Homo sapiens: one gene and its partners. The protein of the gene in region 1 interacts with the protein of each later gene in a pairwise test. Each region holds a gene or a part of one and is shown on either strand. Other genes may lie near its edges. The genes, in order: QRICH1, SP2, ZYX and HSPB8.

What was found.
Region 2: the proteins of QRICH1 (region 1) and SP2 interact in binary tests that used the Homo sapiens proteins (3 or more experiments, as listed by UniProt).
Region 3: the proteins of QRICH1 (region 1) and ZYX interact in binary tests that used the Homo sapiens proteins (3 or more experiments, as listed by UniProt).
Region 4: the proteins of QRICH1 (region 1) and HSPB8 interact in binary tests that used the Homo sapiens proteins (3 or more experiments, as listed by UniProt).

Annotation. Positions count from the first base shown.
Region 1 is NC_000003.12:49,083,452-49,091,572, forward strand, and holds part of QRICH1 (transcriptional regulator QRICH1), read right to left. Parts: intron 1-8,121. UniProt on the Homo sapiens protein: Transcriptional regulator that acts as a mediator of the integrated stress response (ISR) through transcriptional control of protein homeostasis under conditions of ER stress.
Region 2 is NC_000017.11:47,899,205-47,906,235, forward strand, and holds part of SP2 (transcription factor Sp2), read left to right. Parts: exon of another isoform or gene 1-1,174; intron 1,175-5,831; exon of another isoform or gene 5,832-7,031. UniProt on the Homo sapiens protein: Binds to GC box promoters elements and selectively activates mRNA synthesis from genes that contain functional recognition sites.
Region 3 is NC_000007.14:143,383,253-143,391,373, forward strand, and holds the end of ZYX (zyxin), read left to right. Parts: coding exon 1-70; intron 71-837; coding exon of another isoform or gene 838-849; exon of another isoform or gene 850-2,133; intron 2,134-4,966; coding exon 4,967-5,087; intron 5,088-5,236; coding exon 5,237-5,406; intron 5,407-5,514; coding exon 5,515-5,693; intron 5,694-6,604; coding exon 6,605-6,725; intron 6,726-7,325; coding exon 7,326-7,430; 3' UTR 7,431-7,859; downstream 7,860-8,121. UniProt on the Homo sapiens protein: Adhesion plaque protein. Binds alpha-actinin and the CRP protein. Important for targeting TES and ENA/VASP family members to focal adhesions and for the formation of actin-rich structures.
Region 4 is NC_000012.12:119,188,385-119,195,821, reverse strand, and holds the end of HSPB8 (heat shock protein beta-8), read right to left. Parts: intron 2,124-7,437; coding exon 1,964-2,123; 3' UTR 1,076-1,963; downstream 1-1,075. UniProt on the Homo sapiens protein: Involved in the chaperone-assisted selective autophagy (CASA), a crucial process for protein quality control, particularly in mechanical strained cells and tissues such as muscle. Displays temperature-dependent chaperone activity.

The DNA of each region.
Region 1 (8,121 bases):
CTTCCATACTGCAGTAGTAGAATCCTGTCTGTGGATAGCCACAGCACTCCAACCTGGGCACCACAGTGAGATCCCATCTCTTAGAAATAATAGTAATAATTTAAAAGACAAACAAGCTTGAGGTAGGAAAAATTCCATAAAACCATTAGAAAATATCAATACTAAGCTTGGCATGGTGGTTCTCGCCTGTAGTCCCAGCTACTTGGGAGGCCGAGGCAGGAGGATAGGATGGCTTGATCCCAGCAGTTTGAGCCTGCAATGAGCTATGATCATGCCACTGCACTCCAGCTTGGGTGACAGAGTGAGACTCCATCTCAAAAAAAAAAAATTAGCCAGGTGTGGTGCTGCATACCTGTAGTCCCAGCTACTTGGGAGGCTGAGGCAGGAGAATCGCTTGAACCCAGGAGGCACAATCTTGGCTCACTGCAACCTCCGTGCCCCCCAGGTTCAAGCGATTCTCCTGCCTCAGCCTCCCGAGTAGCTAGGATTACAGGCACCTGCCACCGTGCCTGGCTAATTTTTGTATTTTTAGTAGAGGCAGGGTTTCACCATCTTGGCCAAGCTGGTCTTGAACTCCTAAACTCATGATCCACCCGCCTCAGCCTCCCAAAGTGCTGGGATTACAGGTATGAGCCACCGCACCCGGCCCACATCCGGCTAATTTTTATATTTTTAGTAGAGATGAGGTTTTGCCATGTTGGCCAGGCTGGTCTCGAACTCTTAACCTCAGGTAATCCACTCGCTTCCACCTTCCAAAGTGCTGGGATTACAGGCATGAGCAACCACACCCAGCCTAAATTCTTTTTTATTTTTATTTTTATTGAGACACAGTGTTGCTCTGTCGCCCAGGCTGGAGCGTAGTGGCACGATCCTGGCTCACTGAAACCTCCGCCTCCTAGGTTCAAGCAATTCTCCTGCCTCAGCCTCCAAAGTGGCTGGGATTACGGGCACCCGCCACCATGCCCAGCTAATTTTTGTATTTTAGTAGAGACGGGATTTCGCCATGTTGGTCAGGATGTACTCAAACTCCTGACCTCAAGCGATCCACAGCATCGGTCTCCCAAAGTGCTAGGATTACAGGCGTGAGCCATCACATCCAGCCAAGATTGTGAGACCAGCCTGGCCAACATGGTGAAACCCCATCTCCACTAAAAATACAAAAACTAACAGGGCATGGTGGCAGCCACCCGTAATCCCAGCTACTCTAGAGGCTGAGGCAGGAGAATTGCTTGAATCCGGGAGGCGGAGGTTGTAGTGAGCTGAGACTGCGCCACTGCACTTCAGCCTGGGGAAAGAGTGAGACTCCACCTCAAAAAATGATAAAAAGGAATGCTAACAGTAGTTATGCCTAGATGATGGAACCACAGAGTAATTAAGTTTCTTCTGTTAAACACTCTTCTGAATTTTCCACAAGTGGTATTAATCTAAGGCTCACGCCTGTAATCCCAGCACTTTCCGAGGCAGGCAGATCACCAGATCAGGAGATCGAGACCATCCTGGCTATCACGGTGAAACCCCGTCTCTACTAAAAATACAAAAAAATTAGCCGGGTGTGGTGTTGGGCGCCTGTAGTCCCAGCTACTCGGGAGGCTGAGGCAGGAGAATGGTGTGAATCTGGGAGGTGGAGCTTGCAGTGAGCCAAGATCGTGCCACTGCACTCCAGCCTGGGCGACAGAGCAAGACTCCGTCTCAAAAAAAAAAAAATCATCTTTTTCTACACAGTGGCTATAGTGTAGTAATGGTAAGACACATAATTCTGGCTGATCATAGTATGATTTTCTTTCAAAATCTGAAAGAAACTAAACCGGCCGAAAGAGGTGGCTCATGCCTGTAATCCCAGCATTTTGGGAGGCCGAGGCAGGCGGATCACCAGGTCAGGAGATCGAGACCATCCTGGCTATCACGGTGAAACCCCATCTCTACTAAAAATACAAGTGGTTATAGTGTAGTAATGGTAACAGACACGTAATTCTGGTTGATCATAGTACGATTTTCTTTCAAAATCTGAAAGAAACTAAACCTGCCGAACGAGGTGGCTCATACCTGTAATCCCAGCACTTTGGGAGGCCGAGGTGGGTGGATCACCTGAGGTCAGTAGTTTGAGACCAGCCTGACCAACATGATGAAACCCCGCCTCTACTAAAAATACAAAAAAAATTAGCCAGGTGTGGTGACACGTGCCTGTAATCCCAGCTACTCGGAAGGCTGAGACAGGAGAATCGCTTGAACCTGGGAGGTGGAGGTTGCAGTGAGCCAAGACCATGCCACTGCACTCCGGCCTGGGCAACAAGGGCAAAACTCCATCTCAAAAAAAAAAAAAAGAAAAAGAAACTAAACCATAAAATACCAAAAACTTGTACAAAATAATGAAGACTTAACTTCAAGATGCTGCACATAAGACACAAAAGTTGAGCCTTCGTAATAAAGAGAAATGGAGAAACTTCTAAAAGAGACAAAAGATTCTTAATTAGCTCCAAGTAAAAGACTTAGTAAGAAGCAATAAAGAAATTAATTAAAGTATTTCTGAAAAACATGCAGCCATGAGGATATCTGAGTGTTCCCAATTTCTGGGACTCTGATGAGACTAATAATGAAAAAAGAAAATACTCTAATGCTCTTGGGGTGTATGAGGTCTGTAAACAAGCATTTACTTCTAAACGCTTTTAAATATAGCTGCATTGTAAAAAAAAAAAAATAAGTAACAATAAAGGAAAGCCAGCCCTCCCTTAAACAGACCCTGGACATTTTTGCTGGTATAAAATCAAATTGTTCACTGGTATCTCCTCTGTATCTCCCTCTTTTTCTTTTTCTTTTTTTTTTTTTGAGATGGAGTCTCACTCTGTCGCCCAGGCTGGAGTGCAATGGTGCGATCTCGGCTCACTGTAAGCTCCACCTCCTGGATTCACACCATTCTCCTGCCTCAGCCTCCCAAGTAGCTGGGACTACAGGCACCCACCACCACGCCCGGCTAATTTTTTTGTATTTTTAGTAGAGACGGGGTTTCGCCGTGTTAGCCAGGATGGTCTCGATCTCCTGACCTCGTGATCCTCAGCCTCCCAAAACTGGGATTACAGGTGTGAGCCACTGCGCCTGGCTCCTCTGTATTTCCTCCTACTGGAGCTTAGCATAGTGCCTGATGCACAGCAATTCTTCACTACATGAGTTATTATTTTTATTATTTTATTATTAGAACATAAGATGGTACCATGGACAAAGGTTACTCCAAAACAACAATCTATTACATTTCTATAGGTCTGTTTGCTAATTTTTTTCTTTTTTCCGTTTAGGTACCAAGGGAAGATCTTATTGCAATCACTGTTTCTTGGGTTTCTTATCCCTGATACCTCTTTTGGGCCCCCTGTATGGCTCTGCAGAGTGAGTCTTCAATCCGTGATGGACTAAAAGAAGTCTGAACTGCCTCAGAACCTTACCTCTTCCTTGGGCTTTGAGGCCCCTCAAGGTTCACATCTACTCCAACAATGGCTCTTCATAGCTTAGTCCAGTTTGAATACATTCATATGGGGCCCGGTGCAGTGGCTCACGCCTGTAATCCCCAGCACTTTGGGAGGCTGAGGTGGGCGGATCACCTGAGGTTGGGAGTTCAAGACCAGTCTGGCCAACGTGGTGAAATCCCATCTCTACCAAAAACACAAAAATTAGCCAGGCGTGGTGGTGGGCACCTGTAACCTCAGCTACTCGGGAGGCTGAGGCAGGAGAATCACTTGCACCCAGCAGCCGGAGGTTGCAGTGAGCCGAGATCGCGCCACTGCACTCCAGCCCGGGCAACAAGAGCAAAACTCTGTCTCAAAAAAATAAAATAAAATAGGCCAGGCACAGTGGCTCACGCCTATAATCCCAGCAGTTTGGGAGGCTGAGGCAGGCAGATCACAAGGAGTTTGAGACCAGCCTAGCTAATATGGTGAAACCCTGTCTCTACTAAAAATACAAAAATTAGCCAGGTGTGGTGCCTGTAGTCCCAGCTACTAGGGAAGCTGAGGCAGGAGAATTACTTGAACCCGGGAGGCGAAGGTTGCAGTGAGCCACGATCGCACCACTGCACTCCAGCCTGGGCAACAGAGCAAGACTCCATCTCAAAAAATAATAAGAAAAATAAATTTAAAAAAAATAAAAATAAAAAAATAGGCCAGGTGCAGTGGCTCATGCCTGTAATCCTAGCACGCTGGAAGGCCGAGTCGGGCATATCACGAGGTCAGGAGTTCAAGACCAGCCTGGCCAACATGGTGAAACCCCATCTCTACTAAAAATACAAAAATTAGCCAGGCGGGGTACCATGCGCCTGTAGTCCCAGCTACTCGGGAGGCTGAGGCAGAAGAATTGCTTGAACTCAGGAGGCGGAGGTTCATCTCAAAAAAAAAAAAAAAAAAAAAGAACAATGTCTTCTATGCTTCTTTGAAATAACTCCATATGTTTATAAGACAGACATGACTCCTTAAAATGGAAATTGATTTTTTTTCCATGTGAATATATTCATTTTATTTCATTTATTTTTTTTTTTTTGAGACAGAGTCTCACTCTGTCACCCAGGCTGGAATGCAGTGGCACAATCTCGGCTCACTGCAAGCTCTGTCTCCCGGGTTCACGCCAGTCTCCTGCCTCAGCCTCCCAAGTAGCTGGGACCACAGGCGCCCGCCACCACATCCAGCTAATTTTTTTGTATTTTTTAGTAGAGAGAAAGTTTCACCGTGCTAGCCAGGATGCTCTCGATCTCCTGACCTCATGATCTGCCCGCCTCGGCCTCCCAAAGTGGTGGGATTACAGGCGTGAGCCACCGTGCCCGACCAGAATTGACGTATTTCTATTCTTTTGCCTGGGTTTTGTTTCTTTGTATTTTTATTTTTTTGAGACGAAGTCTCGTTTTCTCACCCAGGATGGAGTGCAATGGCATCATCTCGGCTCAATGCAACCTCCGTTTCCCAGGTTCAAGTGGTTCTCCTGCCTCAAGCCTCCCTAGTAGCTTGAACTACAGGCGCACGCCACCCAGCCCAGCTAATTTTTTTGTATTTTTAGTAGAATCGGGGTTTCACCATATTGGCCAGGCTGTTCTCGAACTCCTGACCTCAGGTGAGGAGTTCATTTCCACGGCCCCCCTCGACCTCCCAAAGTGCTGGGATTACATGCCTGAGCCACTGCACCAGGCTTTTGTCTGTTTTTTTTTTTTTTTTTTTTTTAATGAGACAAGGTCTTGCTCCACTACCCAGGATAAAATGCAGTGGTGCATTCATAGATCCCTGCAGCCTCACACTCCTGGGCTCAAACAATCCTCCTGCCTCTGCCTCCCGAGTAGCTGGGACTACAGGTCCATGCTACCACATCCAGCTATTTTTATTTTTCTGTAGAAATGGGGTCTTGCCATCTTGCCCAGGCTGGTCTCCAACTCCGGGGCTCAAGCAATCCTCCCACCTTGGCCTCCCAAACTGCTGGGATTACAGGCATGAGGCACTGTGTTCCACCCATATTTCGATTTTTAAGGATACTAGCCAACTGCAGGGTTTGTGATAGAAGTTATCCCATTAGGCCATTTATATGCCCCATGCCAGAGGAGTCCCTGGTTTAGGGGCATTTTCATCACGGTTCTATTTTCTTTTTTTCTTTTCTTTTTTTTTTTTTAAATGGAGTCTCGCTCTGTCCCCCAGCTTGGAGTGCAATGGTGCCCTCTCAGTTCACTGCAACCTCCGCCTACAGGTTCAAGCGATTCTCCTGCCTCATCTTCCCGAGTAGTTGGGATTACAGGCGCCCATCACCATGCCCTGCTAATTTTTGTATTTTTAGTAGAGACGGGATTTCACCATGTTGGCCAGGCTGGTCTGGAACTCCTGACCTTAGGTGATCCGCCCGCATTGGCCTCCTAAAGTAATGGGATTACAGGCATGAGCCACTGCACCCGGCCATGGTTCTATTTTCAATCAGGAAACTAAAATTTGTATTTTTCCCAAATATTGACGGATTGTAAACTGGCACAACCACTTGCATTATCTAGTGAAGCTGAAAATATCCATTCCACGAACCTGAGCAATTTTACCCATCAGTATATATGAAGGAACTTTTTTTTAAACAAGGGTACTTAATACAAGAATGTTCACAGCAGCATTGTTAAGAGCCAAAAGCTGGAAGCAACCCAGATATCTATCAATAGTGGAATAGATAAATACCTTATGGTGTATTCATACAACAGAATACTACATAAAAAATGGAAATGAACAGCTGCACACAATGTGAACAAATTTCAGAAACATTATGCTAAGACAACATAATACAGCATGACTCCATTTATACAAAACTCATAAGGAAACAAATCTAAACTAGGTTAAGGGCTACGGAGATGGTAAATGTAAAAAGAAGAAGAATGTTATCACAGAATAACAGCTGTCTGTACGGCTTGAGAAGCTGTGATCAGGAAGGGACCCACGAAGGGTTCAGAGATACTGGCATCGTTTTATTTCTTGAAAAAGTAGTACTTTCGCCAGCATTTACTTTATAATTTGTCATTAAATTGTACAGAGATCGCCTAAATTTACATGGATGGATAAATATTTCACAAATTTTAAAACAAAGAAAAACATGGGCGGGCGCAGTGGCTCACGCCTGTAATCTCAGCACTTTGGGAGGCCAAGGTAGGCAGACCACGAGGTCAGGAGTTCAAGACCAGCCTGACCAACATAGTGAAACTCCGTCTCTACTACAAATACAAAAAATTAGCCAGACATCAGCCGGGCACAGTGGCTCACGCCTGTAATCCCAGCACTGTGGGAGGCCGAGGCGGGCGGATCACGAGGTCAGGAGATCAAGACCATGCTGGCTAACACGGTGAAACCCCGTCTCTACTAAAACTACAAAAAATTAGCCGGGCATGGTGGCAGGCACCTGCAGTCCCAGCTACTCGGGAGGCTGAGGCAGGAGAATGGCGTGAACCCAGAAGGTGGAGCTTGCAGTGAGCCGAGATCGTGCCACTGCACTCCAGCCTGGGCAGCAGAGCGAGACTACGTCTCAAAAAAAAAAAAAAAAAAAATTAGCCCAGCGTGGTGGCGGGCACCTGTAATTCCAGCTACTCCAGAGGCTGAGGCAGGAGAATTGCTTGAACCCGGAAGGTGGAGGTTGCAGTGAGCCGAAATCGTGCTACTGCACTCCAGCCTGGGCGACAAGAGTGAAACTCCATCTCAAAAAAAAAAAAAAAAGAGAAAAGAGAAAAAGAGAAAAATATTAGCCTTCTGACACAGCCACCATTTCTACCTACAGTTTTGCCCTGGCCTGAAGAGTGAGACCAAAGGAGCACTCCTTCCCTCTTTCAGCAAAGGAAGAAATTAATCTACCATTTCTTCATGCAGCCACATCAATTTAATAACAGAAATCACAATCTAATGTAATAACTAGGAAAAAATACAAAGGAAGCATTTAAGTGAAGTCTGAAGAGGACTTAAAACATCTGGAACAAAATGCAGTACAACAGAATAACAGAAAAGAACAGGTAATAGGCCAGGCGCGGTGGCTCACGCCTGTAATCCCAGCACTTTGGGAGGCCAAGGTGGGAGGATCCCGAGGTCAGGAGATTGAGACCATCCTGGCTAACAGAGTAAAACCCCGTTTCTACTAAAAAATACAAAAAATGAGACAGGCATGGTGGCGGGAGCCTGCAGTCCCAGCTACTCCGGAGGCTGAGGCAGGAGAATGGCGTGAACCCAGGAGGCAGAGGTTGCAGTGAGCCAAGATTGCACCACAGCACTCCAGCCCGGGCAACAGAGCGAGACTCCGTCTCAAAAAATAATAATAAAAATAAAAAGAAAAGAACAGGTATTCATGTAACACCTAATTCTAAGGCTAATTCAGAAATCAGAGACCCTTACAGATCAAGAGTGGCCATTTAAAAAGCAGACAAGAAAGAAATATGGCACATGAAGTATAAACCACAACTAATTAAACTAAAAGAAAGCATATCCAAAAAAAAAAGCATATCCAAAGTAAGGAAAGACATCCCTGATTCTGAAGCTGCCTTAAAGAAAGGCAGCCACATCCAGAGCCCCTGACTTTGGTTACTTTCCTAGAGCAATTCAAATTTACAAGAAAATTAAACCACTATTTGATCTTTAGTTTGAAATGGCAACATAA
Region 2 (7,031 bases), on another chromosome or scaffold:
AAGATGCTCTTCCTCAATTATCAGCAGATCTTTTTTTGGCTAGCAGCATTCTCTTAGGAGACCTTGGGGTGGAGGAGGTCTCACTTTTCTGTCAGCAATCTATTGGAGCAAGGTGGAAAGATGAGTGAAGAGGGTAAAAATATGTGACATTTCTTTTTTTAAAATAATAGAGGCATAGTCTCTCTATGTCAGGCTGGTCTCAAAACTCCTGGCCTCAAGCAATCCTCCCACCTCAGCCTCCCAAAGTGCTGGGATTACAGGCATGAGCCACTGTGCCTAGCCAACATGGGACATTTCTAACTCGAGGGTATTGTCAGGCCATGTAGGAAAGGGAGCAGAGATTGCCCTTGAGGAGATGCTCCCAGGTGGCAGATTTGTCCTACTTGATAGATTCCAAAATGGAAAACGGATTTTTCTGCTGCCTCTGGGGACACTGAAAAAAGAACCTCCACATGAGTTCAGAGGCAGCACCGGCAGCTTAGGGGAAGTCATGGCTTCCACTGCGTGTCTAGGAAGCGCTCTTTCAGGATGCTCTGAGGCTGCCACTGGCACAGGGGAATACTGTGCTTCTCATCAGACTGGGCTGCGGGCTGATGTGCTCTTGGGAGATGAGCTCTGCTCAGGAGCAAGAGGTTGTGAAAGGGCTGATGTTTCTTAGGCTCCCCCAATGAGCAGCTCCAAGCAGTGCTGAGATGTCTAGGCCGTTTGTGTCACAGGACAAGCACACTTGCAGACCCAACTGTTGGAATCCTTCATTGGCATATCATTCCCATTGCTGCTGTTTGTCTCCACATCAGAATTGCTTGCTATACTTAGCCAGAAGCCCTGCCACATTGCAGTGCAGAGGCTTAGCTTTCTTGTTTTTGTTGCTGAGTGCTCTGAGATACCAGTTTGTCCCTTTGTGGTGATTTAGGCAGTTAGGTGGCCTTTGATCTCATTCACAGAGTAAAAATGGCTCAGGAGGAGCCAGCAGACACTAGCGTACACATTTCCAAATGTCATCTTTCTAGAGCCTTCTCTTTGGGGTTGTCACCTCTCCTATAGAATTTGGTAGAATCACAAAGTGGTCTCCAAGAGAGTGTGAATAGGAAGTAAGAGTGAGCAGGCAGGCCATGTAATTGGAAGTGGAATATCTCTGCTCTCAATTGATAATTAGGAATCTTCTTAGATCAGCCTAGAAGAAAACAGACCAAGACATTTCCCAGCCTCCAAAAAAGTAAATGGTAAGCCAGCCCTGTCTTCTCAGGGGAAATGAAATCACCACTCATTTCAGAAGCTGATTCTGGCCTGGGGCCGGGCTGGGTGATCACGCCTGTAATCCCAGCACTTTGGGAGGCTGAGGCAGGCAGATCACTTAAGGTCAGGAGTTCGAGACCAGCCTGGCTAACATGGCAAAACCCCATCTCTACTAAAAATACAAAAATTAGCCATGTGTGGTGGCACACGCCTGTAGTCCCAGCTACTGCAGAGGCTGAGGCACGGGAATCACTTGAACCCAGGAGGCGGAGATTGCAGTGAGCCGAGAGCGCACCACTGCACCCCAGCCTGGGTAACAGAGCAAGACTCCATCTCAAACAAAAACAAAACACTGATCATGGCCCAGGATAAATGTGGGGAGTGACTCACAAATAAATGTGCCAAAGCACATAAAGAGATTCTTTAGGGGAAAAAGTATATCTTGCTTCTTTTTTTTCTCCTGTTCTCTAAAATTCTGAGGCCCAGTATTCTTTGACAAAAAAACTTGATGCTGTTTCTTGGGCCTGCTTTGATCAGGTTCTCTTCACCCTATGCTGCCCCCACCCCCACACACTTCCAGAGTCCCTTCCAGTACAATGGGATGTGACGCAGTCAGGATGCAAACTAGCAAATGACAGTCACGTTTTGGAAAGAAGAATTAAGGGTGGAGACAGATAGGCGGTATTCAAATTCAAGTGCCTTCGTTATCTTTTTTTTTTTTTTCTTGAGACGGAGTCTCGCTCTGTCACCAGGCTGAAGTGCAATGGCGCAATCTTGGCTCACTGCAACCTCTGCCTCCCGGGTTCAAGCGATTCTCCTGTCTCAGCCTCCAGAGTAGCTGGGACTACAGGCACGTGCCACCACACCCAGCTAATTTTGTATTTTTAGAAGAGACGGGGTTTCACTGTGTTGGCCAGGATGGTCTCCAACTCTTGACCTCGTGATCCATCCGCCTCAGCCTCCCAAAGTGCTAGGATTACAGGCGTGAGCCACCGTGCCTGGCTTTGTTTTTTTTGTTTTTTGTTTTGGTTTTTTTTGAGACAGAGTCTCGCTCTGTCACCAGGCTGGAGTGCAGTGGTGCTATCCCGGCTCTGCCAATGCATGTCAATGGAGAGAAGCATTAATAATGCATATCAGTTGAGAGAAGCATTGAAATGCAGTAGTACCTGGTGTGTGGTGATGAGAGGCGTGCGCTTTGAAGTTTTTGGCCAGGAGCAGGACTGGACTGCACTGGCCCACATGTGAGGTGACTGGTGGGGTTGAGGGTTCCACCAGGGTCTGGGTCAGCTAAACCCAGCTGTGGAGTGGATCCTGACCTAGTGCCAGGATATGCAAATCTGCAGCTTTTCTCCTTTGGTTCCTAAACTCGCTTTAGGCCCTCCTGCTCTAAAGCCTCCAGGATTTATTCATTCACTTATTCAACAAATATAGATTATTAAGCACCTACCATGTGCCAGGGACTGGGATACATCAGTGAGTAAGGCAGAGAAGTCCCTGCCTTTAGGAAGCTTACATCTTAGTGGGAGACAATTAATAACTAATAGATATTTGTTAGACAGTGAGAAGTGCTAAGGAGGCAAAATGAGGATAAGGTAAAAAAAGGGGGGTGGCAATTTACATAGGGTGATCAGGGAAGGTCTCAATGATAAGGTGACATCCGAGTAAAACCCTGAAGGAGTGGGGAGGAGATTGAGCCTTTTTCTATCTGGGGTGAGGGGAGGAGGGTGAGAACTCAGCAGAGAGAAGAGCAATGCAAAGACCCTCAGCAGGGGCCATACTTGGTATGTTCAGGAACAGCAGGGAGCCAGCATGGCTAAAGCAGTGAGAGAGGGAGAGTGACAGGGCAGGTGAAAGAGGTTAGGTCACACAGGGGCCTTTTGTGTCACAATGGAGATTTTGGCTTTTACTTTGAGTGGGAGATGGGATGGTATTGGGGGCCTCTGAGCAGAGAAATAACATGGTTTCATTTAAGTGTGATGGGTCTTACTCTGGATGTGTTGAGAATAGACTGATGGGGTCAAGGTCAGAAGCACAGCTAGGAGGTTAATCCGTGGGAGACATGATAGAAACCTGGACCTAGGTGATGACAGAGGAGGTGGTAGAAGCAGTCAGATTGGGCATATATTTTGAAGATAGAGTGTTTGCTGTCAAGTGTAGGGTGTGGAAAAAAGATAAGGATAACTCCCAAGGTTTTAAGGCTGAGGAGCTGGAAAGATGAAGTTACTATTCATTCACTGCAGTGGCGAATTTTGAAGGAGTCACAGGATTAGGACAATATCGGGAGCACTGTTTGGGGCTAGTTAGATTTTTGTTTTGTTTTGTTTTGTTTTTTGAGATGTTGTTTTGCTCCTGTCACGCAGGCTGGAGTGCAGTGGCACAATCTTGGCTCACTGCAACCTCCACCTCCCGGGTTCAAGCGATTCTCCTTCCTCAGCCTCCCAAGGAGCTGGGATTACAGGCGGGCACCACCACGCCCGGCTAATTTTTGTATTTTTAGTAGAGACGAGGTTTCGCCATGTTGGCCAGGCTGGTCTCCAACTCCTGACCTCAGGTGATCCACCTGCCTCGGCCGCCCAAAGTGCTGGGATTACAGGCGTGAGCCACAGCGCCCAGCTGGGGCTAGTTAGATTTACGATGCCTATTAATACATCCAAGTGGAGCTATCAGTAGGCAGTTGGATATACCAGTCGAGATAGAAATGTGAGAGTTAAAATTATATAGAATCTGTATCTTACTGGTTTCTAAACCCACGAGACTAGACAAAATCAGCTAGGAAACAGGTGTAGACAGAAGAAAGGTCCTGAGACAGAGTCCTGGGGCAACCCAATCATTTAGAATTTGAGAGGAGAGGAAGAACCAGCAAAGGAGATATGGGAGAAGTTAGCCAGAGACTAGCAAGTGTGTCCTAGAGGCCAAGTAAAGAAAGTGTTTCAAGGAAGAAGAGGCCAGGCGCGGTGGCTCACGCCTGTAATCCCAGCACTTTGGGAGGCCGAGGCGGGCAGATCACTTGAGGTTAGGAGTTCGAGACCAGCCTGGCGAACATGGTGAAACCCCAACTCTATTAAAAATACAAAAAATTAGCCGGGCGTGGTGTCAGGCCCGTGTAATCCCAGCTACCTGGGAGGCTGAGGCAGCAGAATCACTTGAACCGGGGGGCGGAGGTTGCAGCGAGCCAAGACCAAAAGGAAGAGCAATCAACTGTCAGAGCAACACGGATGACGTGGTTTAAGAAGTAGCCATGGCCGGCGCGGTGGCTCACGCCTGTAATCCCAGCACTTTGGGAGGCCGAGGTGGTCGGATCACGAAGTCAGGAGATTGAGACCATCCTGGCCAACATGGTGAAACCCTGTCTGTCTCTACTAAAATACAAAAAATCAGTCGGGCGTGGTGGCACACGCCTGTATTCCCAGCTACTCAGGAGGCTAAGGCAGGGGAATCACTTGAACCCGGGAGACGGAGGTTGCAGTGAGCTGAGATTGTGCCACTGCACTCCAGCCTGGCAACAGAGCGAGACTTTGTCTCAAAAAAAAAAAAGAAGTAGGCCAGGTGCAGTGGCTCATGCCTGTAATCCTAGCACTTTGGGAGGCTGAGACTGGCGGATCACGAGGTCAGGAGATCGAGACCATCCTGGCTAACACAGTGAAACCCTGTCTCTACTAAAAATACAAAAATAAATTAGCCAGGTGTGGTGGCGGGCACCTGTAGTCCCAGCTACTCGGGAGGCTGAGGTAGGAGAATGGCGTGAACCCGGGAGGCGGAGCTTGCAGTGAGCTGAGATTGTGGCACTGCACTCCAGCCTGGGTGACAGTGAGACTCTGTCCCAAAAAAAAAAAAAAAAAAGAAGTAGAAGTAGCCATTAGGTTTTTAGCAACATGGAGGTGTCTGGTGGTGTGAACAGTTTTCGTGGCATGCATGAGGAGGGTGCAGCCTGGTTGGAGCAGGTTTAAGAAAAGCTAGCGGGAGAGAAATTAAGGACAGTAAGTATAGGTAACTCCTGCAAGGAGTTTTGCTTGAAGAGAAGGGGAGACATAATGGATCTTAGCTGATGAGGGAAATTTTAACTTCTTGATGAAATTGTAGACATACCTAAGGGTCATTGCCTGAGGCTGGGGGTCTGAGATGGCGGAGTGGGGGGAGATGGGAGGCTCAGTAAAGGGTTAATGTGGAGACAAGATCTCCATTCCTTACTCACCTTCTTGCTTACTTCGGCCTGTGGCATTAGCAAGCCACGGCCCAGAGTTGTTCTCATTGAAATGAAAGCCATTGAAATTTGTTTTACTGTTAATGGGCTCTTTTACCATGGTTTTAATTTATTTGTTTATTTAAAATTTTTATTATTATTTTTTAAAGACAGGGTCTCACTCTGTCATTCAGGCCAGAGCACAGTGGTGCAATCATGGCTCACTGCAGCCTCGACTTCCTGGACTCAAGCAATCCTCTCGCCTTGGCCTCCTAAGGAGCTGGGACTGCAGGCACACACCACCACACCCAGCTAGTTTGTAAACATTTTTTGTAGAGATGGCATCTTGCTGTATTGCCCAGGCTAGTCTTGAACCCCTGGCCTCAAGTGATCCTCCTGTCTCGGCCTCCCAAAGTGCTGGTATTACAGGCATGAGCCACCGTGCCCACCTTATAATAGTTATTATGATTGCTGAGGTTTGCCTCTCATTGAAATATTCAGCACAATTTGGAGTCTTTCACTACCAAGGTTGCTGCTTTCTTCATCCAAATGGATTCTCATACCCCATTTGTGAGCTTTCTTTGAGGTCCAACTTTGTTCTCTAAAACCAGCCAGGGCATGCTTTTCCCTCACCAGCTCTGAATTCTTCCAGGCTAGGCAACTGGAAAAGCCTGGGCTTAGAAACTGCTTTGTTGGCTTACGGCCCAGCTGAGCTGACCAAAATAGCCAAGAGAAAGACTGTTTGCACAGTGTGAAATTCCTCCAGGGGAAATACCATAGCAAAAAGCCAAGAAAGCCAGACCCACGATGGCAGGAACCCACAGGCAAAAAAAGCCGAGTTACCCCCAAGGCCTGGGTTGTGGAGATGGAGCCTAGTTCTCTCCAGAAGAAAAAGCTTCCTAAAGCCTACTGTTGTGGTATTTCTGTAGGCGCGTTTTCTCATTTGCTGGGTCTCAAGAGTAGCATTCTCAGTGAAAGGAACAGTCGAACAGCCTGCAGCCTGGTGGCCAGGGCTCAGAGGTCTCTCTTCCTGTTACGTGCTCTCCCCAAGTCAGGCCTAGAAAGACCGTGGGACAGGGACACACTCCCAGCTCTGTGTTGATGGGACAGTGCCGAAGGGTGCCTGGAGTATGCACTGGCAGGTAGCAGGGTCACCTGCCCCAGATTTGAGGTGGGAGGAGGTCAGGAAAGGCTTTCGCTGAGTGAGAGTATAAATGAGCTCTAAAGGACAGGAGCTGGCCGGGCAAATGGGAGAGAGTGTGCTTCAGGCTCCAAGTGAGACAGGGTGGCGTGTTTTAATTCCAGAAATGAAAAACTGAAGTGTGTGTTGGGAGAGTTGGAAGGGAAAGAGGTCAGGAGGGAGGACCAGGGAGGGACAGGTTGTTCTGGCCTTTATAAGTTTATCACAAGAGCATCAGGGAACAATTGAGGGGGTTAATTAGGAGAGTAGCTGGATGGGATTTGCACTTTAAAAAGAGCCTTCTAACCAAATTGTGGAGGCTGACTAAGGGGGAGGCCAGAGGCCAGGAAGCAGTTTTAGAGGCCGTAGGCAGTATCTCAGGTGGATCATGGTGATGAGGATGGGGAGCCTGGGTACACTATAGGGAGATTTGTC
Region 3 (8,121 bases), on another chromosome or scaffold:
GCAGAGGGAGAAGCCCCGAGTGCAGGAGAAGCAGCACCCCGTGCCCCCACCGGCTCAGAACCAAAACCAGGTGAGGGATGGTGATAGGACAAGGCTTGGTACCAGGGCACTGGGGCGGGGCTGGGTCAGGAGCCAGAGCATAAGCATAAGGTGATTGGAGAGTCAGGGTGGACACGGGGGTTGCGGGGTGGCGGGATAGGAATTTTCATCCTCTGGGGTTAGCCTGGTGGAACAATGGTAGGAAAATGCTCCTCTGGAGGAGAGGCCTGGCTGGGTGTGGGGCTGGGTGGGGCCTGGCTGGGACGGCGCAGAGAGCATGGGCTCTGAATTAGGAGGATCTGGTGGACCTTTCCTTGTGCCTTTACCCCAGAAAGTTAAAGGGAGGGATGAGATCACCAGTTCCACCTTGGTTTTTCCCATTCTTGGGTCTTGAGTTAATCTCCCTGCTCCTCTGAGCACTCTTTCTGCCTGAGGGCTTGGAGGTAAGAGACAGCCCCAGTAAACACTGGTTGAGCCAGCATCCACCACGTGCCAGGCACTGTGCTCTGTGCCCAGGAGGGTAGGACATGGGAGGGAAGAGATCTCTGCAAGAAGCTCAGCCTTCAGGTGTCAGATGGACCTGGAATGGAATTCTTGGCTCAGCTTCTCCCAAGTCCTTAGACTGGGCAAGTTAGGTGAACCCTGAGCCTCAGTTTCTCAATCTTTAACATTCTCTACTCCATACAGTGGTTGTGAAGATTGGGTGAGCTAATACCTAGAGAGTGTTGGGTTCTGTATCTAGTACAGGAATGCTCAAAATAGAAAAGCTGTAATTACAAAATGGTTCTTGCCTTCTAGTTCAGGAAATAAGATCGTCCAATTTCTGGTGACGAAGATGACCCTGATGGTCATCTAGTCCAAGCATCCAGAGTCCACTGATAGTGTTGATGTCTACCTACACTCGGACACAGCATAGGAAGAAATGCCAAGGGCCAGTGAGCTTTGCAGAATCCTGTGAGTCACAGGCACTCAGACCAGGGAGTCAACTCGGGGAGTCAAATTAGGAAAGGCTTCGAAGGATGGGCAGGACGTAAGAATCCAGAGAGGAGAGGGATGTTTGGAGAACAGAAAGTGGAAGGTTCCTGTAGGAAAATGATAGAGCTATACTTGGAGAGGCAAGCGGGGCTGGAGGGTGTAGGAGGTGAAGTGGCTCACCCAAGGAGCTCTTGAGCACTGGAGAGGCATTCATGATTTTTGAGTAGGTGTGGGGTGGGTCAGGAGGGCTGGTGAAAGCAGTGTTTTTGGAAGCTTTCTGGAAAGTTTCACCAGCAGAGATGTGTATTCGAGGGAGGTCAGTGATGGGTGTGAATTCACTCTTGGGCAATAGTAATGTTAGCTGCAATGAAAATTAAACCGTGCATGTGAGAGCTGTGTGCTAGAGCTGTTGGGAAGGCACAGCCTCCAGGACTTAGCAAGGGATGAGCAATTGGAAGACAAGGGTGAGGGGAAGAGGGAAAAAAAAGTCTCCAGCACGATTTGGAGATGGGGTGTGGGCGGATGGCAGGATTGCTGACAAAATAGAGAAGTCCAGAAGGGGAAATGGTTTGGACGGGAAGAGGAGGGGTCCAGCTGTCAACGTTTTGAGCAACAGGTCCCAGGAGGACTTTCAGCTGGGGCCGTCATTCAGCTAGAAATCCAGGGCTAGGTTTCAGGAGAGGGCCAGAGATGTCTAGCATGGTAGTGGGGCACAGTGACACTGTGACGCTGGAGGGTCAGGGTCGGAGCGGAGGAGCTTCCCAGGGAGTGCAGACAGCGGGGACCAGGAGGTGCGGGAAGAAGAGTCAGGAGGAGAGTCAGGGTGCACTTGGAGAAGAGAGCTGAGCTCCTCAGTGGGGTATTTGAGGGAGTGAGGACTCAAGGCTAGAGATTAGACTGTTGGGAAATCATCAGCGGTCTTGGGATGGCCTGTTTGTGCCCTGTGGTGGGAACACAATGTGAGGAGTTGAGGAGAGAGTGGGTGGTGAGAAGTGGGGCTGCTGGTGTAGCCTGGTCTTAAAGGACTAAGGGAAGGACTGTGTGTCAGTGGTGTGTGTGTGTGTATATATACACATATGTGAATATATGAGTGGCGTGTGTGTGTGTGTTAGTGTGTGGGTGTGGGTATGGTGTATGTGAGTGTATGTGCATGTGTGAGCATGAATGTATGAGTGGCGTGTGATGTGTGTAGTGTGATTGTGTGAAAGTATGTGTATATGAGTACATGTGTGCATGTGTGAGTGAAGGTGTGTGCATGTGTGAGTGTGGCTGTGATGTGTATGGTGTGTGATTGCACAAGTGAAGGTGCACATACATACTTTCTTACAAATACACACAAGTGGCGTATGTGTATATATGTGAGTGGTGTGTGTGAGCGTGTGGTGTGGTATATCTTTTTTTTTTTTTTTTTTTTTTTTTTGGAGACGGAGTGCAGGCTGTCGCCCATGCTTACTACAACCTCCGCCCCCCTGGCTCAAACGATTCTCCTGTCTCAGCCTCCCAAGTAGCTGGGATTACAGGCACGTTCCACCACACCTGGCTAATTTTTGTATTTTTTAGTAGAGATGGGGTTTCACCATGTTGGCTAGGCTGGTCTCGAACTCCTGACCTCAAGTGATCTGCCTGCCTCAGCCTCCCAAAGTGTTGGGATTACAGGTGTGAGCCACCGCGCCTGGCCTGGTGTGGTATTATCTGAATGTGAGTGGTGTGTGTGTGTGTGGTATGGTATATGTGTGAGTGTGTGTGTGTGGTGTGGTATATGTGTGAGTGTATGTGAGTGGTGTATGTGTGTGGTCTGGTATGTGTGTGTGCATGTGAGTGGTATGTGGGTATGTGTGAGGGTGTGTGTGTTTGAGTCTGTGGTGTAGCATATGTGGTTTTTGCAAGTTAGGGGAGAAGGGCTCAGGTACGTGTGTAACCCGGGGAAGCAGGTGATGGAGGGTGAGTGTTGTGGGAGAGCAGGGGCAGGCTGCTTCGGTCCCTGGAGGAGATCTTGGTGATGTCTCCTCCCCCAGAGGCATACCAGACAGCAAGGACAGAGTGGTTGCAGCGTGGATAGGAAGGACGATGAGGGAGCTTAAGCTGGCTGGCTTCCATGTCCTCAACCATGTGGGAGGTGAGGTCACGGTGCGAGCAAAGGGACGAAGCAGGTGGGGGCTCAGGAGATGGAGAGGTCTGGAACGGCTGCTGTGGGGAAGGCTGGGCTGGAGGTCGCGCGGGTGCTGCAGTGTTGTGAGCTCACGCTGCAGTGTTCAGTGATCTCTCCACTGCTTTCTGCAGCTTGGAAGCAGAAACAGGAAGAGGGTGGTGGTGTGACTTGGGGTTGGAGACTGGGCCGGATAGCTGCGGGTGGCTGCAGGTGCCCGGAGGGACAGTGAACCCTGTAGGAGTTAGATGGTCATGGGACCAGGCTGGGGCATGGTGGACAAAGTCCAGGGGTGGGTTGCGGGTGGGGGCAACTAAGGCTTTTCTGGGTTCATGTAGTAGGTGTGGATGGGGAAGAGGAGAGGCAGATAATGGCTGGCAAGAGACTTGGAGGTAAATCTGAGGTCAAGGATGTCCCATGATGGATGATGACTGAGATGGACGGAAGTTTGGTTTGAAGCGGTGGCATTGGTGCAGGCTGGCAGAGGGGGCAGTTCTGGATAGAGTGTCCTGATGAATGGGGATACCCATGGGAGGTGATGCAGATGAGGATTCTGTGCTTCTGAAGGAGGAGCCAGGCATTTAGAATGGCACTGGAGAGCAAGGACTGACTGAGCCCCTTCACTGTGTCCCCAAGAGGCCAGGAAGGGAAGATTGGAGGAGACAAAGTTGAAGTGAGTGTTCCAGGGAACGAGTCAGTTAAGAGATGGTAGGATCTTAAGGGAAGATGGCTAAGATCTTAAGGGAAAATGGCTAAGATCTGGAGAGTTGGACTTATATGGACGCATGCTTCACTGGGCAGAAAGGACGCAACTCTGGGTACAGATGGGGGTCGGGGTGAGGGGCAGTGAAGCCAGGGCTGAGGGGAGAGGGGCTATGGGAGGAGGTAGCAGGGGGGCTTTGGAGGTTCCAGGTGTTATGGGAATGAAGGCATCTGCAGGTAGCACACTCAGTGATGGGGCCACAGTCCTGGGTAGGCTTTTCCAGACATAGAAAAGACCCACCCAGTGCACTTGCTCCTGTGGGCGTGTCTCCCGGCAGTGCTGATGCAGGTCAGACAGCCCTTCCCGGAGTTCTCAGGGTTACCTCTCAGGGTTACTGGCAGCGCTGTCCTTAACATCCACCCCCCACTCCAGTCCCCGGGATCCCCTAAATGGGAAGGTTGGGCTGGCCTAGGGGGTGGCCTTTGGACCTTCTCTGAGGCTGCTGGGGAGGGACCTGAGTGAGGTAGTTCAGAGGCCCCTCACTCGAGGGACAGGGTCTCTGTGTGGGGGTGGGGCTGGGTTCTTGCAGACAGCTCAGTGGGTTTAACCTGCAATTCCTGCCTGTGTTGTATCCTCACGCTGACAGGGGCTGCTCAGCAGCAGGCAGGCCGGGTAGGTGTGTGTGCGCGTGTGTGCACGCCATTGCGTGCCCCTGTCCCATGGGGGCGATGTCCGAGCATGCTCTGTGGAGTTGATGCGTGGCCCTGGAGTGTCCGGTGCTTCAGTGACCCGAGCTGCTGTGTGCGTGGCCTCCGTCCGCCCAGTCATTCTGGCCTGTCTGTGACTGCTCAGGGGGTTTGGGCAGAGTGGGTGGAAATGTCTTGCTGTACGAGATCCAGGCTTAGGTCCCTTCCCCTGTTATTTGTGTGGTGCTGGGGATGGCGGGGGTAGGGGGACGAGGGAGAAGCTTTAAGGGTCAAGCCTGAGCATCTGGGACACGAGCTGGGAGCTAAGCCTCATCGGAAGAAGCCGGGTAGGCTGGCCTGGGAAGGTTCTTGGAGGCAGCAGCCCTCTAGAGTGTGAGGAAAATGTTGGGATTGCAGGTGCGCTCCCCTGGGGCCCCAGGGCCCCTGACTCTGAAGGAGGTGGAGGAGCTGGAGCAGCTGACCCAGCAGCTAATGCAGGACATGGAGCATCCTCAGAGGCAGAATGTGGCTGTCAACGGTGAGCCCACCCCACCGGGACACCCCCACCCTGCCCCCACATCACGGTGGGGGCCAGGGCTGTGGCTCCACTCCCTATCTGAGCTGGCTGATCCCTCGCAGCTCTACATACTTCCTTCTATTTACTGCTGTCTTCTCTGGCCTTCCCAGAACTCTGCGGCCGATGCCATCAACCCCTGGCCCGGGCGCAGCCAGCCGTCCGCGCTCTAGGGCAGCTGTTCCACATCGCCTGCTTCACCTGCCACCAGTGTGCGCAGCAGCTCCAGGGCCAGCAGTTCTACAGTCTGGAGGGGGCGCCGTACTGCGAGGGCTGTTACACTGTGAGTCGGGCTGTGCTGGGCTGTGCTGGGCTGTGCTGGGCAGTCGGGCCCTGGAAGCTTGCTGTGGGGTGCCGGTTCCCTGCCAACCTCCTCCTGCTGCCTCCTCAGGACACCCTGGAGAAGTGTAACACCTGCGGGGAGCCCATCACTGACCGCATGCTGAGGGCCACGGGCAAGGCCTATCACCCGCACTGCTTCACCTGTGTGGTCTGCGCCCGCCCCCTGGAGGGCACCTCCTTCATCGTGGACCAGGCCAACCGGCCCCACTGTGTCCCCGACTACCACAAGTGAGGACCTGCCACCTGCCTTCTGGGTTCCCGGCGTGCTTGGTCTGGTAGCCCGGCTGCTTGCTACCCTAGCCTCAGGACAGCCCCAAACCCCTGGTGGTGTTTTCTGGTCCCATGTCCTGTCTGTAAACAGCAGGGACCAAGTCATCGGGATGTAGCTGTCCAGGGGCCTTAGGCCTGGGCATCGAGTCCTGCTGCTGTCTGGTCCCTCCCTCGCCCTTGATCACTGAAGCTTATTGTGGGTGTATGTCAGCATTTCGTGAAGTGTGCTGGAGTGACTTCATCTCACACACAGGCTGGGTTCTAAAAGTTCTTTTGGAGATCAGCTGTTTGGATTTCTGGTTTCTCCCCAGAAATAGTGTTTAGAAGGTGGCTACTTTTTCAGGCTGACCCGCAGAACCTCAGTGCAGCTGTGGGAACAGTGCAGAATCTGACCCCCACCTCTGACAGAGTGTTTGGGTAAACACTTTCAGGATTCCATCTGGGGTGGCCACAACTTCACATCCCTCCACAGTGCCAGACAGTCAGGGCAGAGGCAACGTGCATGGGGGTGGGAGGATTGGGGGAAGGTGAGGGTCAGGGACCCAGGATGGGATGGGAGGGGTACCTCAGGGCTGGCTTTCTGCAGGAGCTGCAGTGTGAATGGGACAGTAAGGGTCGAGTGGGAGAGAACACCGTGGCAGGTGTGTGGGAGGCTCCCTTGCTTTGGGAGAGTGACTGGTGAGGCAGGAAATTCCCTTTGATGAGGGCCAGTCATGGTGTCTCACTCTTAGGCCCTTCTGGTGAGCTTCCTTCACCTGGAGATGCAGGGCAGAGAAGTCTGCTTCCTTGCTGCCCAACCTGGCTTATGCGTGCGCACACCGGGGATGAAAGCCCTGGCTAACTCGGCTGGCCCTTTCTGCCCCTTCCAGGCAGTACGCCCCGAGGTGCTCCGTCTGCTCTGAGCCCATCATGCCTGAGCCTGGCCGAGATGAGACTGTGCGAGTGGTCGCCCTGGACAAGAACTTCCACATGAAGTGTTACAAGTGTGAGGTCAGCCATCCCTCTGGACTCCTTGGGCAGGTTCTGACCAGGAGGTGGCGGGAGATGCTGCTTACTAACTGGGAGGTGGAAAGCACCAGCATTCAGGAAACAGGGCTGTGATTTTGAGGGTGGCTCATGGTGGCACCCCATCTGTCCTGCCAGAATGCTTCCTGCCACTGCAGGAAATGGGGCTGTGGGGCTTCTGAGGTCACTTTGAGTCATGGATAAGCCAAGAAATGGGACAAGCCAATAGGAGAGAAGAAGGGCATGGTGTTTTACCGTGGTAGGGGATGGGGAAACAGGAGCTGAGAGAAGAGGTCTTCGAATGGAGGTGAGCCAACCTCTATTTTATTAGGGTGGTGGTGGGCAGGGGAGCAAGCACCTTGGGAGCAGCTCTACCCACTGCTTGCCCTCTTGCAGGAAGGTCCTAGTGGGTGACTGGAAGTAGGATAGGGATGGGGAGTTGGGTGTGGCTGGAAAAAGCGATGACACCAGCTCTGAGCCATGAAGCATCTTTCTAATTCCAAGATGGAGCTGGATGGGGTGGGGTAGGGTGGAGCAGAGCAGGGGCCTTCCGGTCCAGTGCCCCTCACCCTTCCTTCTTCCCAGGACTGCGGGAAGCCCCTGTCGATTGAGGCAGATGACAATGGCTGCTTCCCCCTGGACGGTCACGTGCTCTGTCGGAAGTGCCACACTGCTAGAGCCCAGACCTGAGTGAGGACAGGCCCTCTTCAGACCGCAGTCCATGCCCCATTGTGGACCACCCACACTGAGACCACCTGCCCCCACCTCAGTTATTGTTTTGATGTCTAGCCCCTCCCATTTCCAACCCCTCCCTAGCATCCCAGGTGCCCTGACCCAGGACCCAACATGGTCTAGGGATGCAGGATCCCCGCCCTGGGGTCTGGTCCTCGCCCATCCTGCAGGGATTGCCCACCGTCTTCCAGACACCCCACCTGAGGGGGGCACCAGGTTTAGTGCTGCTGCTTTCACTGCTGCACCCGCGCCCTCGGCCGGCCCCCCGAGCAGCCTTTGTACTCTGCTTGCGGAGGGCTGGGAGACCCTCCAGGACATTCCCACCCTCCCCCATGCTGCCAAGTTGTAGCTATAGCTACAAATAAAAAAAAACCTTGTTTTCCAGAATTCTCAGTAGTCAGCTCTTTTGTAGTGCCTGCAGCCCTCATGGGTGGGATGGAGGCAGAAAATCAGTTCCTGTTTATTTACAAAAATATATATATGTGTATGTATGTATATATATTAACCCCTCAGCTCCCTCCCATGATCATCCTTTTACTTCTACCCCCACCTCCCTTTTAAAACAAAGAGGTTTTCTGGGGTGCAGAGCAGGGTTCTCCTGAAAGTGGGCAGAAGCAGCACCGATAGCCTAGTCTGGCAGGTTGTGGGA
Region 4 (7,437 bases), on another chromosome or scaffold:
CTCTGAATGAGCACCTAGGCAACACAGTCCGGGGCTGGGTGTAGCAAACCTGTCAGCAGCTGCCTCCTGGGACAACCACCCCCTTACATGCTATCTACCAGAAAAATGAAAGCTCTTCTTACCCCATCTCCCAGGCACCCCCCAGCAAGGGCTCTGAATTCTAAAAACAGCAAAAACATTCAAATGGTTACATGTGAAATGCTGTCCCTCATCTTTCTGTCTCAAAGATAGCAACTGCCCCTCCCCCAGCTCCCCCCACATCCCCCAAACAATTTCTGTGCCAAAATGAAGAGGAGGCCCCAGGCCATGGGGGGCTCCTGGCCACGAGGGGCTGTTGCGGCGGCGCCAGGGCACAGGGTGGGCGAGACACAGCAGAGGTCCTGGCAGCGCGGCCCAGGTCCCCGGCATCTCCTCCCATGGGTCGCGGTTACTTATACAGGGAGAGCGACTGCATTCGTTTTCCTGACAATGTGGCATCATCTTTTGCTTTCCTTTCCTCTTCCTTCTTCCGGGCAGCCTCCTCCCGCTGTTTCCGGATGATGGCCAGCGGGCCAGGTCAGCCTTGGCTTGCTCTGTCTTCCCGGCCAAGTGCATTTTCATGTAACGCTCTTTTGCCTTCTGCTTCTCAATCTCTTCTCGTTCTCTCCTCGAAAGCTCCTTTGGCCCATCCAGATACAGTTGTGTGACCTTTTTGGTTGTCTGTGCCACCTGGTTGGGGTTCTCGATGTTGAAGAGCCCTTCAACGCCTTTGCGGTTTTGCTGGTAGTCATCTTCTTCATCCTCACTCTCATCTGAGTCTAGAGATTTCTTCTCCTTTTTGGGGTCACCTGCAGCCCCATCTCCACCTTCTTTTTGCTCCTCTTCTTCCCTGGCCTTCTGCTTCTCAGCCTGCAGCTGTACGTCGATCTCCTCAGGGCTCCTATACTGCCTCGCCCAGCCTTTGTGGCCTCCCTTTCTCCCTCCTTTAGGCATCGCGGCTCCGCGCAACATTACTTTAAGCCACAGCATTGCTAACTGATGTTGTATATCTAGGTGGTATTACATTTAGTTCCTCATTAAAAGAACCACACAAGGCTAAGAACGTCAGCTCCTTTATTATTATTATTATTATTATTAATTATTTACTGTTATTTACCCCTAAACAACAGCATAACTCAAATAATAATGACACACACGTCCCGCCCATATACACAATACCACTAGCCTATCTGTCAGGCTATCTGGCCTTTGCTTGGTTCCTGATGGAGCTGTCTGGAGACAGCTCCCTCTGTAAAAATCCCGACTTAAACACAGGGGACAGAAGAAAGGGGGGACCTAGGTCAGATCATAAACTGACAGGCTCCCAGCGTCCTTAGGGAGTGCTAATGTGGAAACTTTGAGAACGTGCTGGACACATCTGGGCAGAGGGCAGAAGGCACTGTTTGTTTTTATGTGGTTGATGGATAAATTCCATATGGGGATATAAGACCTGTATATCACCCATTTTAGGCCAGGCATGTGGAAGCACAGTGGGGTTAGCTACTGGGTTTCATTAACCAAACCATGCGGCATGGTTTGGGAGCCATGGGAATCGGGAGCCCAGAGTAGGAACCTGGGTGATGGGGGAGGTCCCCAGAGAAAAGTAACCCTTGCATTCACTGCAAGTAAGATACAACGTGAAATGTTAAGTCCCCTTTTATGTGTTTTGCAACTATAGAATGTGCAACATTTTCATCAAGATAGAAAAGGTAAAGAAAGCAAAACTAGTATTTTGGCCTAACACAACCAAGCATGATTTGCCAATTGCGCTATCCTGTGGAGAAATCTACCACTACACTATCCAGGGAATCTGTGGTCAGTCCTCACCCCCGCACCCTCTAACATTTTACTTGCACTAAATCTGAGTTCAGCTAAAGTAATGTATCCTGGAATCAGAGAAGCCCTAGGGTTGGGGACAAAACAAGGATGGGCCAGTACTGGCATCTCAGGTACAGGTGACTTCCTGGCTGTCCTGGGGAAGCTCGTTGTTGAAACTGCTCTCTCCAAATGTTGAGTAAGGAGGGACCTGGGGAGCTTCGATGATCAGCAGACCCTCTGGGGAAAGTGAGGCAAATACTGTCACAGGATCCACCTCTGCAGGAAGCCTAGGAGAAACACACGATTTTATTCATTTATTGTTGTTAATATTGCTTAAACATTCTTTTATTCACTTGAGAGGAAATATTTTTGATAAGAGCTTAGGCTTTGGGGACATACAATGTTGGGTTTGAATCCTGGCTCTACCCCTTTCTAGCTGTGTGGTCTTGGGAAGATTATTCAGTTGCTCTGAGCTTGTTTTCTCATCTGCAAAATGAGGATAATAATACTGAACTTGTAGAGTATTTGAACTTCAGAGTCTGAGTATGCTTTGCAAATGGTAAAATGCTGTTTGAACAGTAGTTCTTAACTTAAAAGAGAGCTGTGGCCCACATATTTGGTCCCAGGTTGAAGTCATCACCTTAATACCCACTACTGACCACAATTACTAGCAGAAATGGCACCACTACCATCCCTTTATAGAGCGCAAGTAAGGTGTTATCATAACAGGCAACACATTTTCATCTGACATGTGCTTGCTGGAGAGTGCTTCACTACAAAATGCATTAATGGTGATGCAAGCACTAGGTACCTTGGTGGATAAAAGGGGCCAAGCTGGCCACATGTAGATTTCAGATGGCAACATACTCGATGGTATTCAAAATAAGCCTTGATTTTGTTCATACCCTAAGTATCTCTGATGTGGTTTGGCTGTGTCCACCTAAATCTCATATTGAATTGTAGCTCCCATAATTCCCATACGTTGTGGGAGAGGCCTGATGGGAGATAATTGAATCATGGGTAGGGGGCAGTTTCCTCCATACTGTTCTCATGGTAGGGAATAAGTCTCACGAGATCTGACGGTTTTATAAGATTTTTTGCTTGGTTCTCATTTTCTCTCTTGTCTGCTGCCATGTAAGACGTGCCTTTCACCTTTTGCCATGATTGTGAGGCCTCCCCAGCCATGTGGAACTGTGAGTCCATTAAAACTCTTTTTTTCATATATATATCAATTATGTAGTCTCAGGTATGTCTTTATCAGCAGTGTGAAAACAGACTAATACAATCACTTAGCAGATCATTATTATCTTGTTCTTCCTTTTATTTTTTTGGGACAGAGTCTCACTCTGTCACCTAGGCTGGAGTTCAGTGGCGCGATCTTGGTTCACTGCAAGTTCCGCCTCCCAAGGTTCAAGCAATTCTCCTGCCTCAGCCTCCTGAGTAGTGTGGATTACAGACACCCACCACCATGCCTGGCTAATTTTTGTATTTTTAGTAGAGATGGGGTTTCACCATGTTGGCCAGGCTGGTCTCGAACTCCTGACCTTGTGATCCACCCACCTCAGCCTCCCAAAGTGCTGAGATAACAGGCGTGAGCCACCGAGCCCAGCCAATTATCTTGTTCTTAAAACTCAGTTATAGACAATACTTGGTTGGAGTATTGTAAGAGGATGATTAAGAGGTAAGAATTAATATGCCCATTCTACAGATCACTAAACAGAGACTTGGGGGAAATCAAATGACAAGCTCAACAAGTGAGAAAGCATCGAAGATGGAATTTCTAAACCTAAATCTGGTCCAACTTCTAATAAGGTATTTTTATGATTTTTGGATTGCTTTGGGTGAATGAGACTATTGAGAATTTGGTTTCTTCAACAAACTATTAAAACTGTGAGGACATATTAGTGATCTCATTGGGGTGCCATTATTTTTTTTAACCATGAAATCCATGACCTTCTGAGTACTTTCTATGTGCCAGGTACTTTAGCTGAATCATATCATTTTGGTGTTAACAATAATCCCACCAGGCAGATTCCATTGCTATCCCCATCTTACAGATGAGGAAATTGAGACTCAGAGAAGTGAACTGCTTTGCCCAAGGTTGCTCAGCTGGCAAATGGCAGATAGGAAATGGAATTGGAATCCTGGTCTCCAAACTCAGAGTATCTGACCATGATGCTCTCCTGCCTCCCCCAGCACCAGACATTTGAAAGAAGGACTATGGCAGGAAGGACCGGCAGTTCAATCAAAATCTTTCCACTGATCCCTGCTGGCTCTGCCTATTGTAAATACGAGGGTCTTGATGAAAGAACCAAGGCATGAGGTAAGCCCATTCCTGATCATAGGCAGGACTCCTTCTGGAGGGGCTGGGGAGTTTTTTTTTTTTCTTTCTTTCTTTCTTTTTTTGTGGGTACAACAACCTGTAGCCACATGAGCCGTATCTACCCAGGAGATTCCTTGCCAGATTGGAACCATGGAGATGAACAAGGCTGCTTCTGGGAAGCCCATTTGGAAGAAAAAGAGGGAACTAGAAAGCTGCCAAGTCAAGCTTTTGAAGCGGAGACAAAGTCAAAAGTTTAGACCTCCCTCCCAATGCTGGGGATGGGCTGACTGTTTAACCATGTGCACACCAACCCAGTGCACACCAGGTACAGTGTGACAGGGTGGCTATGGCCTAGAGCATGGGTTTTGCAGGCAGGCTGACGTGCATTCAAATTCTGACTCTTCCTGACCACACAACATGGGGCTGGTGATCTTGACTCTTTGAACCTGTTTCTTTGCAGAAAAAAAGGGGGCAATAATAGTACCCACCTCTTAGGGTGGAGTGAGAATTACGTTGCAGTCTTTGACCTTACATGTTGGCATCTTGACAGCAAGATGGAGTATCATACAAATTGCAGGATCATTGAACCACAGAGTATCAGGGCCCCAAAGGATCTTCCTGATTGTCCATGACAATGCTCTTATATTACTTATGGGGAAACTGAAACTCAGAGAGATAGACAAGTCCAAGGTCTCTAACCAAGTGACTTGTATTTAAACCCATTTGGTGGGAAAGTAATTCCTCTTCAGTTCTCTTTCAGTGCTTCTACTTACATCTGAAGGAATGTCTCTGCTAAGTACTAACATGCCTTTAACGCCTTTAGCCTCTATCACTTGCTACCTTCCCTTTTTAACAATGAGAGAGCTGAGGCCCTTAGGCAGGCAATATTATCTAGTTAGAATTTAACCACAGTTTGCTTTCATTGGATTTATTTCATGATCGCTTTCCTCAGTGAACATTTCAGTGATAAGAATTTAACTTTATCAAAAATGAGATGATCTAAAAGAAAAAAAAACCTTTAGTAAATCATGGTACAGCAATGTAAGCATATAAGGCAAAAAATAGTGAAGATGGGATGTGAATGACGGTATTGCAAATGACTGTAATTTGGTTTCCCCTAACCAAATAGGAAGATCATGGACTTTGAAAGCTGAGACCCAAGACCTCTCCCTCTCCTCCTTATTCAGTCCAAATGGGGCTTTTCACACAGAGATGGATGTGTTGAGATGAATTTCCTTGCCATGGTTAAGGCAAACAGCTGCAGCATCCTGCCTGGGTGGAAATCTCCAAGGATCTCAGCCTGGCTGAAGGAATCTCCCTGTCCTCTAATGACTGGAGTTTTCCCTGGGAGAGGAGGCAACGAGGACTCCTGAGATTGGTCCAGAGGTGTCCCAGACCCCAGTTCGACTCCTAGGTGTCTAGAGTCTGGGCAGAGCCAGGAGCTCCCAGGAGTCCCAGCTGCTGGAGTGTGAGTCCAGCCTTGTGAAGCCTTTTCATAATATTAATTCCCATGGACCAAGCCCTGAGTCTGTATTCCATGCTTAATGCGTTATACACATCCTCTCACTCCCATCACAACCCCTCCATGCAGGGATGTGGGAATGGAAGGTCAGAGCAGTTAAGCAAGTTGCCCCAAGTTACCCACTCACTTTCTCATGGAGCCAGGACTCCCTGCACCCGGAGCTGAGATTCAAAATATTTAACAACTAGTGCAGCTGGGCACTGACCATTCAGAAGGGATGGGTGCATGTCATAGTGATGGAGGAGGGTCCTGGGACCCTTTAGTTGTTGGAAGGTGGAGAGGTTTAGAGGGTCCTGGGGACAAGATCAGAGTGACTGGGGTTGGCTAGGGAGGGCTCAGGGCAATAGCTAGCCAATATTCAGGGGTCCCCATCCCCCGGATCATGGACCGGCACCCATCTGTGGCCTGTTAGGAACCAGGCTTCACATCAGGAGGTGAGCAGCAGTTCAGCCAGCATTACTGCCTGAGCTCCGCCTCCTGTCAGATCAGCAGTGGCATTAGATTCTCATAGGAGCTTGAACCCTGTTGTGAACTGTGCATGCGAGGGATCTAGGTTGCATGCTTCTTATGAGAATCTAATGCCCGATGATCTGAGGTGGAACAGTTTCATTCCCCAGTCCATGGAAAAATTGCCTTCTACGAAACTGGTCCCTGGTGCCAAAAAGGTTGGGGACCACTGAATATTTTAACAACTAGCCCAGCTCAGCAGCTGAGCACCAGCCTGGAGCAATTTCAGGCATTTCTCATCAGGTTACTTCCAGCAAGCTATCTCCCCTAAGGCCTTGGAGCATGTGAAATACACACACACACACACACACACACACACACACACACACACCCCTTTTAAGATGATTAATTCACTTCTTTCTTACACAGTCCCTTTTACAGCTATGCCCTGCTTGTGACTCCACCCTGAGACCTCATTTGAGCCTTGACATCAGCTTCCCCCCACCCCCTGCCTTCCTTCCTCTCCCTCAGCAATGTTTAATCTGCTTGCTAAACCAGGGAGAGGTGTGGGGCACGGAGATGCCAGGCAAGCCAGCAAACACGAAGAACAAATGGTTTGGCGTTTGCCTTATCAGGAAGTGTCCACAGGCTTCCAAGAACTGCAGAGGCTGTGGGAGGGCCAGGGACGGACATGTGGGGGAAGAGACAGGAATGTAGAATCCCAAGCTGGAAGAAGCCTCAGAATTCAGCTAGTGTGATCTCTCCACACACAGAATTTCTTTGCAAAGGCTGATGGAAAAGTTAAGAGTCAACAATAACAATAGTAATAATGAACTCCCACTTATGAGGACCTACGCTGGGCCATGACCTTATGTCACTTTCAGCCAGGAACTCTGCAAGGCTGGAATCAGCATCCCTTTCACAGATGAGGAAACAGCATTCCTTGCCCAAGGACTGAGCATGGAACTCAGAGGTCAGGGATCTATTCTGGGCCCTTCTAAATTCTAGCTGTAAAGACCTTGGGTATGTCCTTTCACCTGTGGGAGACTTAGTTTCCCTGTATTGCAAGGAGGGTCATGTCTCCTCTCCGATGCACACTTTTGCTGCAAAGGCTAAATGCAACGATGGCTTGGAAAAGAGTTTAGGGGCCAGGCGCAGTGGCTCACACCTGTAATCCCAGCACTTTGGGAGGCAGAGGCGGGCAGATCACTTGAAGTCAGGAGATCAAGACCAGGCTGGCCAAACATGGTGAAACCCCGTCTCTACTAAAAATACAAAAATTAGCCAGGCATGGTGGCATGCACCTGTA